Homo sapiens: one gene and its partner. The protein of the gene in region 2 interacts with the protein of the main gene of each other region in a biochemical or structural test. Each region holds a gene or a part of one and is shown on either strand. Other genes may lie near its edges.

Region 1 (7,670 bases), on a different chromosome or scaffold from region 2:
CACTCCCCCTCTCTGCCCCAAGACTTTGCATTTTGTGCTAAATCAACCAAGTAGCAAAATTGAAAGGTATGCTTTTTTTGGCATAAATTATATTTTTGAAATTAAATATTCTATAAAGAAAGTAAAACAAAATGTGCAATTTATGCATGCTGTGGTGCAGCTATCCGATACTTACATTACAAAAATACTCCAAACAGGAAAAAAGTCCACATTCTGTGAGTCATATAAACCTACTAGGAATGAAAAATACCCTGGAACTTGGAACTAAAAGAAGAAAAGAATGCTCCTAGAAAGATTCTCACAGATTTCAGTGTTCTTTGATAAGCACTGCTATTAATTTCACTGGTATGCTTTTAAATGAGATTCTCACTGTAATGACACTCTTGAGATTAAGATAGTAACAGTGTATTTTGTTAATGCAGAGACAATGGAGACTTCCTAACTTACATTTTGGAAAATCTGAAATGTTGGTTCATTCCAAATAGCTCCTCTAACAAAAGTCTCTCAATTTTACCTTTTCTTTTTTCCCCATGTTTTAATGGATTGTGAATCTGAGACAAAAGTGGAAGCATAAGACTAAAGGAGAAAAAACCTTACTTCCAAAGAACATTTCCCAAAGTAGTTTACAAAGTTCATCTCACACAAAATTAGCACCTCACTCTTACCATGCAAAAATAACTGCAGTTATAATTTGAATGACAGACAATTTGGTTTTTATTGCTTAATGATCTGTGCTTTAATGTGGGGATAAAAGGCATCCTCTGAATGGAATAACATTTTATATAAATAGCAGTAGGAAAATGTAAATAAGCATTGATATCCCACTGCTGAACACTTGGCCGTTGTGATATGCCCTGAAAAACTCAGCTTGAATTATCTCAAGCTCTAGATAAAAGAGCTGAAACCCATTAAAGTTGTCATTTCAAAAGGACTTGTACACATTATGTTAATAATGTATATACTTCCAAAGAGCCTCTTTTAATGTCACTGTCATATAGAATGTCCATATTCTACTAATCGTTATTAGAAAAAATTTAATTAGGGAGAACAGACTGTTTCCCCCTTCCAATCTACCTAAGAATAAACAGGAAATAAAAGTATAGGAAATTTTAGAGCATATTTAATTATGAATACTAAATTTCTAATTTCCTTATTTATCAGTATTTACTTAGTATGTGAGGCTGAAATCTGTTCTTGAAAAAAAGTTCAATTAGAAATAACAATTCACTTTACGATTAGAAATTCATAGTTTACAACCAGCACAACTGCCCAGATTCCTCCCAATTATTCAATAATTACCAATAGTACAAATTTATATGGACTAAGATTAATCCTAAAATCTTTAAAAACTACAGTATTGACATTATTTTGGTATTCTATAGTCTGTAATATCTATTATTTATAGATGATTTTCTCAATTATTTCTATTACTGCTGATATCATTCCTAACCTCTTCTGCTATAATTTAATATTTTTAAACACTTAAGTTAATCACTTGGCACTGCATGTATTTTTCACCATAAAGTCTACTTTTTACAAACAAGTACTCAAAGAAAATGTATTAGACCTGTCAGTGAAATCATGGAGAAACCAAATAGCACTATAAATTTAAGCGTAGACTTTTTTTTTTTTTTAGTATACTGATAACCACAAAGCTCTGAGTATCTCCCCAAAGTAAGTGATATAGGCAGATATGATAAGGTATACATACATATTTTTCAAAGTAACAGTAAAAAAAAAAAACAAAAAAAAAAACACAAAACATTCAGGCCAATACTAACTAAGCCTTATTTCAGGATAGATGACCAAGGTGAGGGTACAGGGATAGTGATGGTGGGGGAGGGGGTGTGTGTGTGTGTAAGACAAAAAAAAAATTACTGTTAACTTTTGAGGGATTAAACCACAGATTTTTATACTCTATATTAACTGAGGTAGTGTTTAAAATGAATGTCTAAAATATGTTAATCCCATTATGAATAAGATTACATTACTTCCTTTGGAGGTTTTAACCACTATTTGGTCTAGTAACTCTGACATTTGGTTCTCTGGAAAGGCAGTTTAGTTATCCAAGACCAAAGACCACGATGACAGGCAACGTTCTTAGAAGTACTGTTGACATTTAAATAAACACTTGGGTTCAGTGATAAAGTATAAAAAAATTATTTATCTTCAACTGGATTTTATGAGAGAAAATCTGAAGAACCACTTTTCAACATAAGCAGCAGCTTACAGCCCTTATCTGCTTTGTTATAATGTAAGTTGCTACACAGTGCACATAAGAACAATTCACTGAAGTGCAGTCAAAGAGGTGTTATGAAGTGAGATGAAATGCTTCATCCCAACTGGAACTTTCAGTTCCAGTAAATAAATTTTTTAAAAAAGTATCTCTGTGAGTTATGTTTTCTAGTTCACAGGGTTCTTTACAGAGATCTCAAAGAACAAGCCCATTACAAAAAGGATCTGCATCATGGGAAAATATTAATGTTGCTATGACTGTGTCAAAACTGATGTGTAATTGTAATAAAAATGTTATACACAAATGAATTAAAAAAGAATCCTAATCAGTCCAGCTGGATTTTCTATTTCTATTTATATATAGATCTCAAAAAAGATAATCCTTTCATTTACAAGCATTCAAATGATGGCCATGCTATTTTTATATACAAATTTGCATATATGTTTAATTCCTGTAAAAAGTTCCAAATACCTTTAGACATATACAAATTAAACAAACAAAAACCTTGCCCTCATCAACTTAACTTCACAAATGGATAAAGGCAATTAATATACTCATAAACCCACCTACCACTGCATTTAGTTTGTGCAAAACAAAAACACTGATATAAAAATTAAGTTACTGCTGCTTTAAAATTTGGTACTTAAGGCTTTTCACTACAATTTTTCTCAATAACAAGCTTTATTAATGTTTTTTTTAAGGAAATATGGCTCTTCTTTCCCCATGGAATGTGTAAATTGCAAGCAAACTTATCTTTTCCTCAGGAGATCCAAAGTATTATTTAATGCTTTCCTATCCTTTAGGTCTAAACTAACAGTGCTTGTTCAAGTTCCTGTTTAAAGCGATGAGATGGAAAGTTGATGAAAGTGGAAGTCCATTGCAAATATATGCATTCTATAAATGGGAAATATTTTTAATTAAAATAAAAAATGATTTTTAAATTTTATTCAAGAACTGTAGTGAAAAACCTTAATTGGTTCATATATCCTGTAATAACACATTGCAACAAAATGAAGAGTTGGAAAACAAGAATCTTTATGCAAGTCTAGTAACATAAAAATAACTTATAAGTCCCGGGTTGTTGAGGCTCTTCTTCTGCTTTGAGGTTATAAACCTCTGAAGTAGTGTTACAAACATTAAGAAAAACGTGAAAGGGCCAAAGTTCCCTCTCTAATACCAGCAGTTATAGCACACCCCATTGTGGTAATAGGATGCAGCCTTAGAGACACTGATTCCTGCTTTCCACAAGTTAGTTAACAAACAAGGCATCTGTATTATTTACCCTAAAAATCATTCAGAAATAACTTGTGAAGGGTGCTTCTGCATATCCCATTATTGTTCCACTGTCATTATGCTTTTAAAATGAAAGAAAATAGAAAACCTATGTAGGTATTCAGTGCTTGGCTCTTGCATACAATGGTAACTGAAACTCTTAAAACTGTGGTAATGAATCATGAACCCCTCAAAAGGCTCAACAAAGGAGAGAAGGAAGTTGTTTTGGTTAGGAAAGTCAGCAGTTCCAACTGTTCATGTACCAGTAACTGCGGAACAGTGTACAGAAGATACTCCTGTCTTTGCTGCCTAGTCAGTCGTATTTTCTGAGGCTTTTAGGAAATCCACAAATATGAATATATATAGTATGTATCTATATCCATCATAAATATGAGGTCAGGATTCAGCAGATGTATCAACTATAGGTTGCTTTGGTGGTGTTGCCAACACAGCCTCTGCTTCTTCATGCATCTAGGGAAAAAATGGTGTATCATCAATTACTTTTATAAAAACAGATGATATAACATATTTATATAAATATCTAATTTTTTTTTTTTTTTGAGATAGGGTCTTGCTCAGTCTTCCCAGGATGCAGCACAATGTTGCCATCTTTGTTCATTGCAACCTCTGAGTCCTGGGTTCATATGATCCTCCCACCTCAGCCTCCCAAGTAGCTGGGAATACAGGCAGATGACACCAACCTCGGCTAATTAAAAAAAAAAAAAAACTGTGTTGACACGGTCTCACTATGTTGCCCAGGCTGGTCTTGAATTCCTGGGCTCAAGCAATTCTCCCGCGCTGACCCCACAAAGTGCTGGGATTGTAGGCATGAGTCACCACACCCAGCTATAATCTGTATTTTAATTCAATTCAAACACAGAATTATTCTTGGAAGATAAATTTGAGAAGTACTAATCATACTTACTTGTAGAAACTGTACATCTTGAAATAATTCTTGTATGAACCTCCGACACGGAAGTCTGAATGTGCAGTGTGACAGCAAATGGGAAACCTCAGAGTAAAGGCATATGTCATCAAATGTTTGAGGATACTTCTCCTTAATTCTAAAATAAAAGATTATGGTGTGATGAAAACTGTAATCATGATGTATCTATTTTTCCTCCAAGGTATCACTTACTTTAAAAATAGATTTCCCTACAGATATGGATTAGATGGCATACTTGGGGTGATGACTTGAGAATATAAAATATTAAATATTCCTGTCACACACTTAGACATTCTGAGTTTGGGTTTTTTTTTAAAAAAAATGATTATCAAAACCTGAATACTTCTTGTAAAATTGAAGCATTCTTTTTTATTGGCATGAGAAATTGCAAAATATATTTATCAGCCTAGGATGATTAAAATATGTTCCAAATTAAGTTTTAAAATAGAAATACATCTTTAAAGTTAAGTTATTAACATCCCTGACTGGGCTATTTCTTTGGATACTTCAAATAGCAGCTTTTAGCTAGGAAAGCACCTCAGAATCAGCTGTGAGTTGGGTGAGTGACCAGTTAAGGGCCCGCTCCCAGAGCTCCCAGCCCAGAGGTCTGCTGTGGGACCCTGATACCTATGTGGGACCCCAATACCTATATCACCCTTAAAAAAAAGCCCTACAGCTGGCTGGGCACGGTGGCTCATGCCTGTAATCCCAGCACTTTGGGAGGCTGAGACAGGAGATCACCTGAGGTCAGGAGTTTGAGACCAACCTGGCTAACCTGGCGAAACTCTGTTTCTACTAAAAATACAAAAATTAGCTAGGTGTGGTGGTACACACCTGTAATCCCAGCTACTTGGGAGGCTGAGGCAGGAGGATTGCTTGAACCCGGGAGGCAGAGGTTGCAGTGAGCCGAGATTGCACCACTGCACTCCAGCCTGGGTGACAGAGCAAGACTCCGTCTCAAAAAAGAAATACAAAATACAAAATAAAAAAGCCCTGCAGGAGACCCTGAGGTGCATTTCTTTTAAGAACCACTGCTTTAAATAATAAGAAAAAAATTAAACCAAGAAAATATGACTTGTTACATGTAAGCCCACTTTCCTCAAACTTTTTGGTCTCAGGACTTACTTTCTTAAAAATTACTGAAGACCCAAAAAAGCTTATTTTTGTGTGGGTTACAGCCACCATTAACTACTATATTAGAAATTAAAATTGAGAGAATTTCCTAACATGCATTAATTTATTTTAAAAATAAATCCATTACATGTTAACATGTATTTTAATAAAAATAACTGTATTTTCCAAAAGTAAAAAAGTGAGAAGAGTGGCATTATTTTACATTTTTTGCAGATCTCTTCAAAAGTCTGGCTTAATAGAAGATAGCTGGATTCTCATACTTGCTTCTACATTCAATCTGTTGCCATATGTTGTTTTGGCTGAAGTATTAAAGAAAATCTAGCCTCACACAGGTATGCAATGCAGTTTAGAACTACTGATGTAAGTTAACTAGCCTAACTTTTGAAGTATTTCAAGTATCTTTTCTCGACTTAAAAAACAGAATAAACAAATAATACTCATGCACATAGTTTACTCACGTTAAAAGCCCAGTCTCATGACATTTAGTTGAAACTGAACTACTCAAATTAATGACTAATCTTAGAACTTCTTTGCGAAGGAGTATACGGCACATTGGTGTATCATCTGGAATTGTTTTAACACCTGAAAAGATTTCAGGGAGAAGTTAAATATTATCTATGTCACAATAAAATGATTAAAACTCATGAAATTTATTTTTAAACTTCACCTAAAGACCTAGAGATCAATTACACATGATCTACCAATCATTTTGGGAGCAAAACTCTAATAAAAGCAGATAGCTAAGAGGCTCTATGTCAGTGGGTGATATAGGTGCAATAATTAACAGTGTTAAATTGCTTCACTAAAATGGACGTATTACTGTTTTGAGACAACTTTAATTTACAGTATTTACGAAAAACAAAACAAAACCAACTAATCAGAACAGTTTTACTAATAATGATTGGATTTGAATCTGAAGACTCACCTAGTAACAATTCTGTGCTTTTGGTGCTGCTAGCTGAGCCTTCTTGAGACACCCCATCACTGCATCCAGAAATCCCCGAAAACTTAGAGGGAACCACTTCTAAAGGATTATGGATAGTCTGCTCACACCAATCAGAATATGGAATATCTTGAAAGTCTGAAGAAAAAAATAATTATTTCAATTAAAGCACCATAACGGCTTAATTCCTGTGCTTACATTGCATGCTAAAAAGAAATAATATAAAATAACATCTTCTCTAATTGTATGCAATATACCAAACACTTCCAAAACTTTTTTCCTCATAGAAAATGAAAATAACTACAGCATGCAAAGGGCCTGGACAGGGCTGTTCACAGTGGAAAAGACCTAATCCAGGGATCTGTCAGACTCAGGCCCCACTGTGACCTGGAACCGTGAGAGGATCAGCATCTCAGCATAACATAATTTGGCATATCAGTGTGCTGCAGCTCACCAGCTGGGAAACTCTGAATTAGAATACCAAAAAGAAATTTGGAAAAGTAAACCAGAGAACTTTAGTCATCACTAGGTTTTTCTGAAGGTGGGACGTGATCACTTACCTGAATGACTACATATTGCACTCAGTTGGTTGCTGGGCTGGAAACCCAGAATTTCAATACAGACACAATAAAGGCAGTTATCATCTGTATGTTCCTGTAGTCCAGTGTCTTCTGTACTTTCTAAAAACAGAGAGGCATCTGAATGGATTGAATTCATTATTTCCGTAAGACTCATCTGCTGTCGTAGCAAGTGAAAAGAATTTTTTACAAGACCTCCAGTTCCAGATGGAAGACCTGTGCATAAGTAAATATAAAACATAATCCAATAAAGATAATACTTTTCAAGGTACCTTAAATTATGTGAAATTTTAAAGAAAGCTTAAGCACATTTTATGACTCAAAATCTAACTGGAAAGAAAAAAAGAATAATTTGCTTTAAGTTATAAAAATAAGGAAAGCCAGCAGATGTTTATTATTTTAATATATAGTGTTTTAAATACAAAATGGAAAATTGAGATTATATAATACATCATTTCAATTATCGTCAATATTTGCCTAAAGATATGTAATAATTCTAAGTATAAAGAGGCATTTGTTTAAAAAGTCATTAAGAATATAAAGCTATAAAACCTGTGGCTT
Region 2 (7,698 bases):
CGCCCAGGCTGGAGTGCAGTGGTGCGATCTCGGCTCACTGCAAGCTCCGCCTCCCTGGTTCACGCCATTCTCCTGCCTCAGCCTCCCGAGTAGCTGGGACTACAGGCGCCCACCACCACGCCCGGCTAATTTTTTTGTATTTTTAGTAGAGACGGGGTTTCACCATGTTAGCCAGGATGGTCTCGATCTCCTGACCTCGTGATCTGCCCGCCTCGGCCTCCCAAAGTGCTGGGATTACAAGCGTGAGCCACCGTGCCTGGCCTTGCTTTGGACTCTTTATTTGTCAACTGGGCCCGGTAGGGAATTGAACACGTAGCTAATGCCTGTAGAGCAGTAAGTCAACAGCAGAGCATGACCGGTGGCCCACCTTGAGCAAAAAGCTATCGACTCGTTTTCATCTTCTTCCTTCATTAGATCATGAGGGAGAAGAACTCGGTTATCTCTGAACACCTGTTTGGCCCTTGGAAACCTTGTGGGGTAGGAGAGGGGGACTGAGGCAAAGTGAGGTGAGACCCAAGAGCAAGGATAAGAGGAAAAAAGCTCACAGCTTTCCCTTGGGGAAATCCCTGTGCGAACTGGAAGGTCAGGGTAGCGGGGGTGCAGCAGGCCTACAGGGTGCTTTTGCAATTAAGGCAGCAGCAACATCAACTGTTTGGGGATTCCCTGATTATTTGTTAAGTATTTGTGTGGAAGACCTAGAAGAGTGAAAAAGTCCAAACCTTTGGACTCAAGATCTCCAAGGATGGTGCCACCTCGCTTTCTCCCACAGGTAATATCACAGTGGGGTGAGCTCTAGGAGTGGGCTCTGCCACACAGCCCCAGAGCCTGCTGGGCCCTTAGGGTGCTAGGTAGACACTGGCTCAAGAAGCTTCAGTCCAAGCTAGGGATGAGCTCCTTCAGGGTCCCTTTACTGAGCTCACTCTAGACCTGGGTCAACTCCAGGTACTCTCAGAAACCAGATGTCCCAGCCAGGTCAGCTTTTTGGGAACATATCCACTTATTTAAAACATTCTCCCCAGCACTTAGGGAAGCCGAGGCAGACAGATCACTTGAGGCCAGGGATTCGAGACCAGCCTGGCCCACATGGTGAAATCCCATCTCTACTAAAATACAAAAATTAGCCAGGCATGGTGGTGCATGCCTGTAGTCCCAGCTACTCAGGAGGCTGAGATGGGGGGATCACATGAACCCAGGAGGCGGAGGCTGCAGTGAACCAAGATCACACCACTGCACTCCAGCCTGGGCGACAGAGTAAGACCGTGTCTCAAAAAAAAAAAAAAAAAAAAAAAAAATTCTCACCCTCTTGTGTGGCATTCTCCTAAACTTCACAGACTATTTCTCAATTTCCATCTCAACTAACTGCTTTAGGTCGGCCTTCTTCATCAGGCTCTGGAAGGGCGAAGTTGTCTGCTTTGTCCACTACGATATCCTGAGCACTCGCAATAGAGCCCAGAGTAGGCTTTCAAATATTTCTGGAAAGAATTACCTGTAACTGAAGACAAGCCAAATGTCAGGACAAATAGTCCAACTTCACAGGACAGGCAATAAATACAGGAAGCATTACTTCATAGCAATCCTTGCAAGATGAGTAAATTGCAAAGGATTTCCTTGGATGGATTTATGAATGACAGACACCATAAAATGCTGCTAAAAAGGCCTGGAACGTAGGTTGGCTTTAAGACCATCCTATACTCCCCTGGAGTCAGAAACCACTGCTGTTGGGAGCAAACCACTAAGCAGGAAATTACAGCAGGATTTTCATGGTTTTCAATTTTAAACTAACCCATGATTACCCCCTTAACCAAAATATACAAAATAACACATGACACAATATATGTAAATATTTTTCAAGGTTTTATTGCAAACCAAAATCAGTTTATCACACACAAAAAAAGTTGTGTGATGGGATGAGGGAAGGATTGTACGTATTATAACCATGTTAATTACAGTACATTAAAATGGTGGTTTACATTACAAATAAGCCTGTAAGTTTAAATATACTAGTGTTATAACCCAATGTACAGACGTTCTTTATACAATACATACAATTATCAGGAATGCAAAAAAAAAAACATAAATAATGCCCATTTTACAGGTGACATTTTAAACAATGAAAAACACCAACGGCTCTGACTGACAACTGGGGCATTGGTCCATAAAAACCCTTTCTAAAAATAGAAATATTTGTAGCAGCAATGCTTTCTTTAAGCATCTGAATACGAGTCATTGCAAGACCATTTCAATAAATTTTAGTTATTAACCGTATCTTACAAAAAAGTCTACACATAAATTTATCTTCCAAATATGGAAGAAACAAACAATGTCCCACGTTGTAGTGTCCTGCAAGTGTCACATTGATGCTTATAACAAAATCCATCTGTGATCAGGCATACCACACTCACACGACGGTTCACACAGCATATCCACAAGGGAAAATAAAGAACTGAAACACTGCGATAGGAAAAGCTTTGGAGCTAACACAATCTCTTCAGAAAAGGCACATTTCATAATATTCGTCATCACAGCCCAGACAGATCTGCAGGAGACCTTTTTTAGAACAGCGTCCGCTTTCTAACGAAACTCCTGCCTCCGTCTAAGGCGGCACTCTAACGCTCGTTTCAGAGATAGCACCACGTTGGAAGGAAGAATAAAAATGAAAACCTCATGAGCTCACTGAGGAGAATGTGCTCTTCAAAAAGCTTCCAGCGAACAGTGTGCAATAAGATTGCTAAGCTTCCAGAGATGTGCAAATTCTCTTGTAAGATGTCCTGTCAGCTGGCGGCTCCACCAAAAGGCTAACTAAAACATTCGGAAACACACATAAAATCCTTTAAAACCAAGCCCTAACAGGGTTCAGAGGAAAGAGTCCGTGGGAGGCGCATAGGAAAAGCCTAGGAAAGCCTCGGCAGCTTCCTTGACGCTGGCTGTGACGAGGACGCTGTCAGGGGACTTGCCAATGGAGTTGGGGACAGGCTCTTCGGTAAACTCGGGGTCAAAGTGCCGTAGGTCGTTGGGCCCACTCTGTGACGGGAAGGGAAAAACACTCTTGTCAAGAACTCACACTAGACACAGGACAGGGAAATCTTGACCAGGCTTTAAATACCAAGTTTAAGTCTTATATCAACTTCCATAATCACCCACTTCAAGCACAAAATCTCAAAAGGCTACACACAGTTAAACATAAGAATAATGTTCACTTGTTGCCTTTTGGTGCTTCGAATTGATAAATGTGTCTAAAAATTATGGGAGCCTTGTTGGGACACAAAAATGTGCTTTTTATGTAGGTAAAATAACAGGTTTATGGAGAAAACATCTGCCAATGTATTCCTTCCAACCCTCCCCCAGACAATTCTGAATTAAAATAAATGCCCTTTGGGCTTCTCTATACTTAGAAGAGAGACAGATACTCACCACATTTGGGTTAAAAGGGGGAGTAATCTTCTTATTAATGAGATCATCCCAGTTAATTAAGGAGAAGAAGACATGACTCTTAATCTCCATCTGTTGATAAGAAACCCAAGATTAATTTAGACAGGTGCATTCAATAAGGGCAGGGAGGTCTAGTGCACGTCCCGGCCGGCCCAGGAGGACAGGAAAACATCACTCACGAAGTCATCCTTGGCCCCGAGCCGCTTTGTCCTGTCCTTCTGCAGGAGGCCCTCCAGGAGGTGTCTTGCGGAATTTGTAATATTTGGTTTCAGCTGGAGAGGCTTGTTCAGAATGTTGTCGTACATTTCAGCTGTGTTTCGGCTATAAAAAGGCGGCTGAAAGAAGGGGAAAATTACTTTAGACTTAATTGGAAGTTTCATATGGCACACATTACCAGTAGAGAAAAAGATATAAACGGCAATAAATATTAGGCTCGATTTGAGAAACTCTCCCCACCTCAATGCTTTCTTTTCCCTTGCTATTTAAGTGTCTACTTTGCAACCCGTGTGTGTGTTTGTGTGTGTGTGTGTGGAGGGTGAGGGGGTAGATGTTAATAAGTGGTAGTTTTTCACCACCACACAGGTTCAATGTGGTCCTATCTAGTAAAATGTGAAATGCACAAAAGAACCAGGTAAGTGATTATTCTTATGAACTATAAAATAACCAATATGCCTCTTAGCTGCTTTTGATAAGCGTACTGGTAAGGGCAAGACACCATGGCCAAGCATGGGCTGTGTGAAGGCAATATTGTAGGGAGCAGGCAGTGTTCCATGGTTCCCAATGTGCCACTCACCAGGCCATACAGCATCTCATACAAGACAGCTCCCAGGCACCACCAGTCCACAGTCCTGTCATAAGGCTGCTTATGAAGCACCTCAGGTGCGAGATACTGAAAAACAGACCAGGGAAACAGCGTTTAGAACCTGCGAAAGCAAGCAATCCCACGACCACACATTTAGTTTGAAAAAGCTGAGAGACCCAGAGCCAGCTTGGAAGATAGATATCTTTAGATTCCTTCCTGATAAAACTGCTGGACTTTTTGAGGGTGACTGGCTACCTATGTGTACTGACATTTAGGAAACTGCTGGGCACTTGATATCTCTTACTTAGGGATTTAGAAAGTTTTTATGATGCAGATCTTACTTACAAACAGCTACTTTTCAGTAAAGGAACAGAAGGACTTGGGATTTCTCATGCTACATCAAACAGCAAATGTATTTTATTTGCACTGAACTGTATTAAGAAGTCTCTGAGAGGAGTTTACTCTTTTTGGTAGTTAAGTGCATGATTGTACATCTCTCTCTTGGAAGGCGGGGGTAAACCAGGCACCAAACCAAGACAGCGCCTACCTCCGGCGTGCCACAGAAGGTGGATGTTGTGCTGTTGTGTTCAATGTTCTCCTTGCAGAGTCCGAAGTCAGTAAGGACAATGTGTCCCTGTGAATCTAGCAAAATATTCTCTGGTTTTAAGTCTCTGTAAAAAAGTGAATAGAAAAGTAGTTGCACAAGTTAATTTCACTTCATAAGATATCCTCTTAAAGATAATTGCTAAAGGTATTAGAGGCATTTTAGGTTCACTGTAGTTGTGTAGTGAAGAAAAAAGGGAGCCCTTGTTCTGCTCATCTATTCTGGATTAGGCACAATCCTACTTGGCTGGTTCCCCCTTGGCACTTAAGTCAAGCCAGCTCACGTGCTAGGGGATCTGGTTTTAGGCAACCAAGTTGCAAATAAACACAAATTATTTTAAGGCCCTATGAAACAGCCAGTGCTACGTCTCCTTTATACCAAAACTGGTAGCCTGAAGAGCTCTCAGGCTTACCTATAAACGATGTTCAGTGAATGCAGGTAGCCCAAGGCACTGGCTATTTCAGCAGCATAGAAACGAGCCCGTGGTTCCAGGAAGCAGCGTTCCCTCTGGAGATGGTAGAACAACTGCAGGAGACAGAACAAAGTCATTCTGGGTTGCAAATGAATTTAATTAGTTTTGACATACACAGCAAAAGAACAACTGCAGGAAGTGGCCCCAAGTAATCTATTAACTATAAACCTGACAGGTTGAAGGAAATGCTAATTCTGGTAACATTCTCCCCACCAAAAATCTTTGAAAACTTTTTTCTCAAACTAAAACAAAGCAGGCTGTGCAGAGACACTAAGAGTTGACTTCTATCCCCCCTGCTCACCTCTCCACCATTAATGTAGTCTAGGACAAAGTACAATTTGTCAGCAGTCTGGAAAGAGAAGTGAAGGCCCACCAGGAAAGGGTGCTTCACATTCTTCAACAGAACATTCCGCTCCGACATAATATGCTTCTCCTAGGAAAATGACGATTCAGATTTAGTGGCATGTTTCAACTTGGCACCAACATTCCAGAATCAAGATTATTCAAGGAGTGTCTACCGCCAATGCCAGCCCCATCAAGCACATCTCATACCTCTTTCTTTTTCAGGATTGCTTTCTTCTGTAAAACTTTGACTGCATAGAACACTTCTTCTGCCTTGTGTCTTGCTAGAAGAACCTGAAATTTCAATTTAAAAAAATCATTTTTCTATCCTCATCCAGGGAGAATACAAAAGAGGACATGAAGGAAGTGTACCAAAAGATCTTCAGATTTGAAATTACCTTTCCAAAACTGCCCTTTCCGATCACTTTCAAGAAGTGAAAGTCAGATGGTTTAGCATGAGGATTGGACGACGGGCCAAGGTTGATTTGCTGAGAAGGACTTGGCTAGAAAAAAAAAAAAAGAATTTCTTTTAATACCATTGCTTCAAAGGAAGACATCTATAACATAAACGATGTAGAAAATGTTACATCTACAAATGACTGATGCAAATGACCATACATCTATAAACATTCAAAACTACATTTCATCACATTTCAAATGAGTATGGAAACTGCACACAGTCATGTTGTTTCAGACAGATAAAACCTTTTTATGAAATATGCCTTTTAAAATAACCACTTTGGAGGTAAAATATGCCCAGGAAAAAAATAAAATAATACTCTGACTCAATACTTAAATATTTATATCACTTGTTATGCCATAATGAAGCATTCCTGCCTTGATACTAATTTCTAGAAATGCTATTTTAATCCATTAATGTAGGAATACTAACTGACTCCCTTACAGTTCTCCACAGATGCACGGCACATACAAAAACTTACTGGAGGAGAAGGGTTGGCATTCATAAGCTCAGGCTCCTGAGGTTGGGAGATCTTCAAGATGGACTGAACTTCAGGGCTGCAGGGAATAAAGGGCACGATTTAGAATCCAGCTCGCCACTAGGGGGCACACCAACATCAAAAGTGAGTTTCTGGCTCTACCGACTTCTACCCGGATAATTCACTGTTTAAACTGAAAATACCCCAATACATTAGTCAGTTAAAGAAAATAATAAACCCCATTAAATACAGAAATAAGGATTGTTGCTCATGGAGAAAGGCCGTGAATTCGGCCAACACGAACCATTTATCTTACATCTCCAGTTCAAGCCAAATCAGCAAATTAACTTTAATGTTTAAAATGTGTCAAATATATTAGAATTTAAGGAGAAATGAGATCCCCACCCCAGAAGAAGTCTTCGCCTTCCCGATAAACGCCGTGATGAGAATGTTTACCGCTGGCAAATTCAAACTATACTAGTTATTTCCTCAAATCCGGTCAAACTTACTGTTTGCATGCATAGGAGTTATTGGCAATCTTCTGAATAAAGTCGTTCAGACCCATCCTCCTCTGCTTCATGAAAGCTGTGGATGAAGGAGGAGAAATAAAGAAACGTTTAGACGGCTTCATAACGTCCGGCGCCACACACACTAATCTGATCCGGGACTTTCAAAAAATTTCCACTTTGCGTCTCCTGGAGCAGAAGTCCCGCAAGATTCCTGCACTCACCGATGAGAATTGCCACCATGCCCCTCATCCTGGAGTAAGTGAGGGTGCCCTTAGCAGCCTCAGTTTTCACCGTCATCACCACCGCGGGGAGACAGAAAGACGTTAGCGCTCAAAGACCGGCTCGGCGTATGCTGCGCCAGGCCGCGCGCTCGGCCTTATAAAAAAGGCACCGCCGCGGGGGCGGGGCCTGCGCGACAGTGAGAAGTGGCCCCGCCCTTCGCCTCGCCCCTCGCCCCGCCCCGGCCGCCTCGCGGTTTGCTGGCGGCTACGCTGCCTGCGGCGGGCGGTTCTGTCCCCATTGAGAGGGCGAGCCCCGGGCGGGGGCGCGAGGACCGCCCGGGGACGGCCTGGCGCAGGGCCGTTATCAGTCTCCATCGGCTC

The links. Proteins that work in one complex are often made in the same cells at the same time.
Region 1: of the proteins of SGK1 (region 2) and RICTOR, one has a biochemical effect on the other in vitro, tested with the Homo sapiens proteins (one study listed by BioGRID).

What each region holds. Positions count from the first base shown.
Region 1 is NC_000005.10:38,938,400-38,946,069, forward strand, and holds part of RICTOR (rapamycin-insensitive companion of mTOR), read right to left. Parts: intron 7,326-7,670; coding exon 7,092-7,325; exon of another isoform or gene 6,670-7,091; coding exon 6,514-6,669; exon of another isoform or gene 6,171-6,513; coding exon 6,047-6,170; exon of another isoform or gene 5,835-6,046; coding exon of another isoform or gene 5,802-5,834; intron 4,573-5,801; coding exon 4,434-4,572; intron 3,980-4,433; coding exon 3,905-3,979; 3' UTR 1-3,904. UniProt on the Homo sapiens protein: Component of the mechanistic target of rapamycin complex 2 (mTORC2), which transduces signals from growth factors to pathways involved in proliferation, cytoskeletal organization, lipogenesis and anabolic output.
Region 2 is NC_000006.12:134,167,415-134,175,112, forward strand, and holds the end of SGK1 (serine/threonine-protein kinase Sgk1), read right to left. Parts: intron 7,453-7,698; exon of another isoform or gene 7,394-7,452; coding exon of another isoform or gene 7,318-7,393; intron 7,173-7,317; coding exon 7,097-7,172; intron 6,667-7,096; coding exon 6,591-6,666; intron 6,153-6,590; coding exon 6,048-6,152; intron 5,944-6,047; coding exon 5,860-5,943; intron 5,741-5,859; coding exon 5,609-5,740; intron 5,361-5,608; coding exon 5,248-5,360; intron 4,903-5,247; coding exon 4,779-4,902; intron 4,319-4,778; coding exon 4,223-4,318; intron 3,765-4,222; coding exon 3,609-3,764; intron 3,502-3,608; coding exon 3,412-3,501; intron 3,022-3,411; coding exon 2,854-3,021; 3' UTR 1,842-2,853; downstream 1-1,841. UniProt on the Homo sapiens protein: Serine/threonine-protein kinase which is involved in the regulation of a wide variety of ion channels, membrane transporters, cellular enzymes, transcription factors, neuronal excitability, cell growth, proliferation, survival, migration and apoptosis.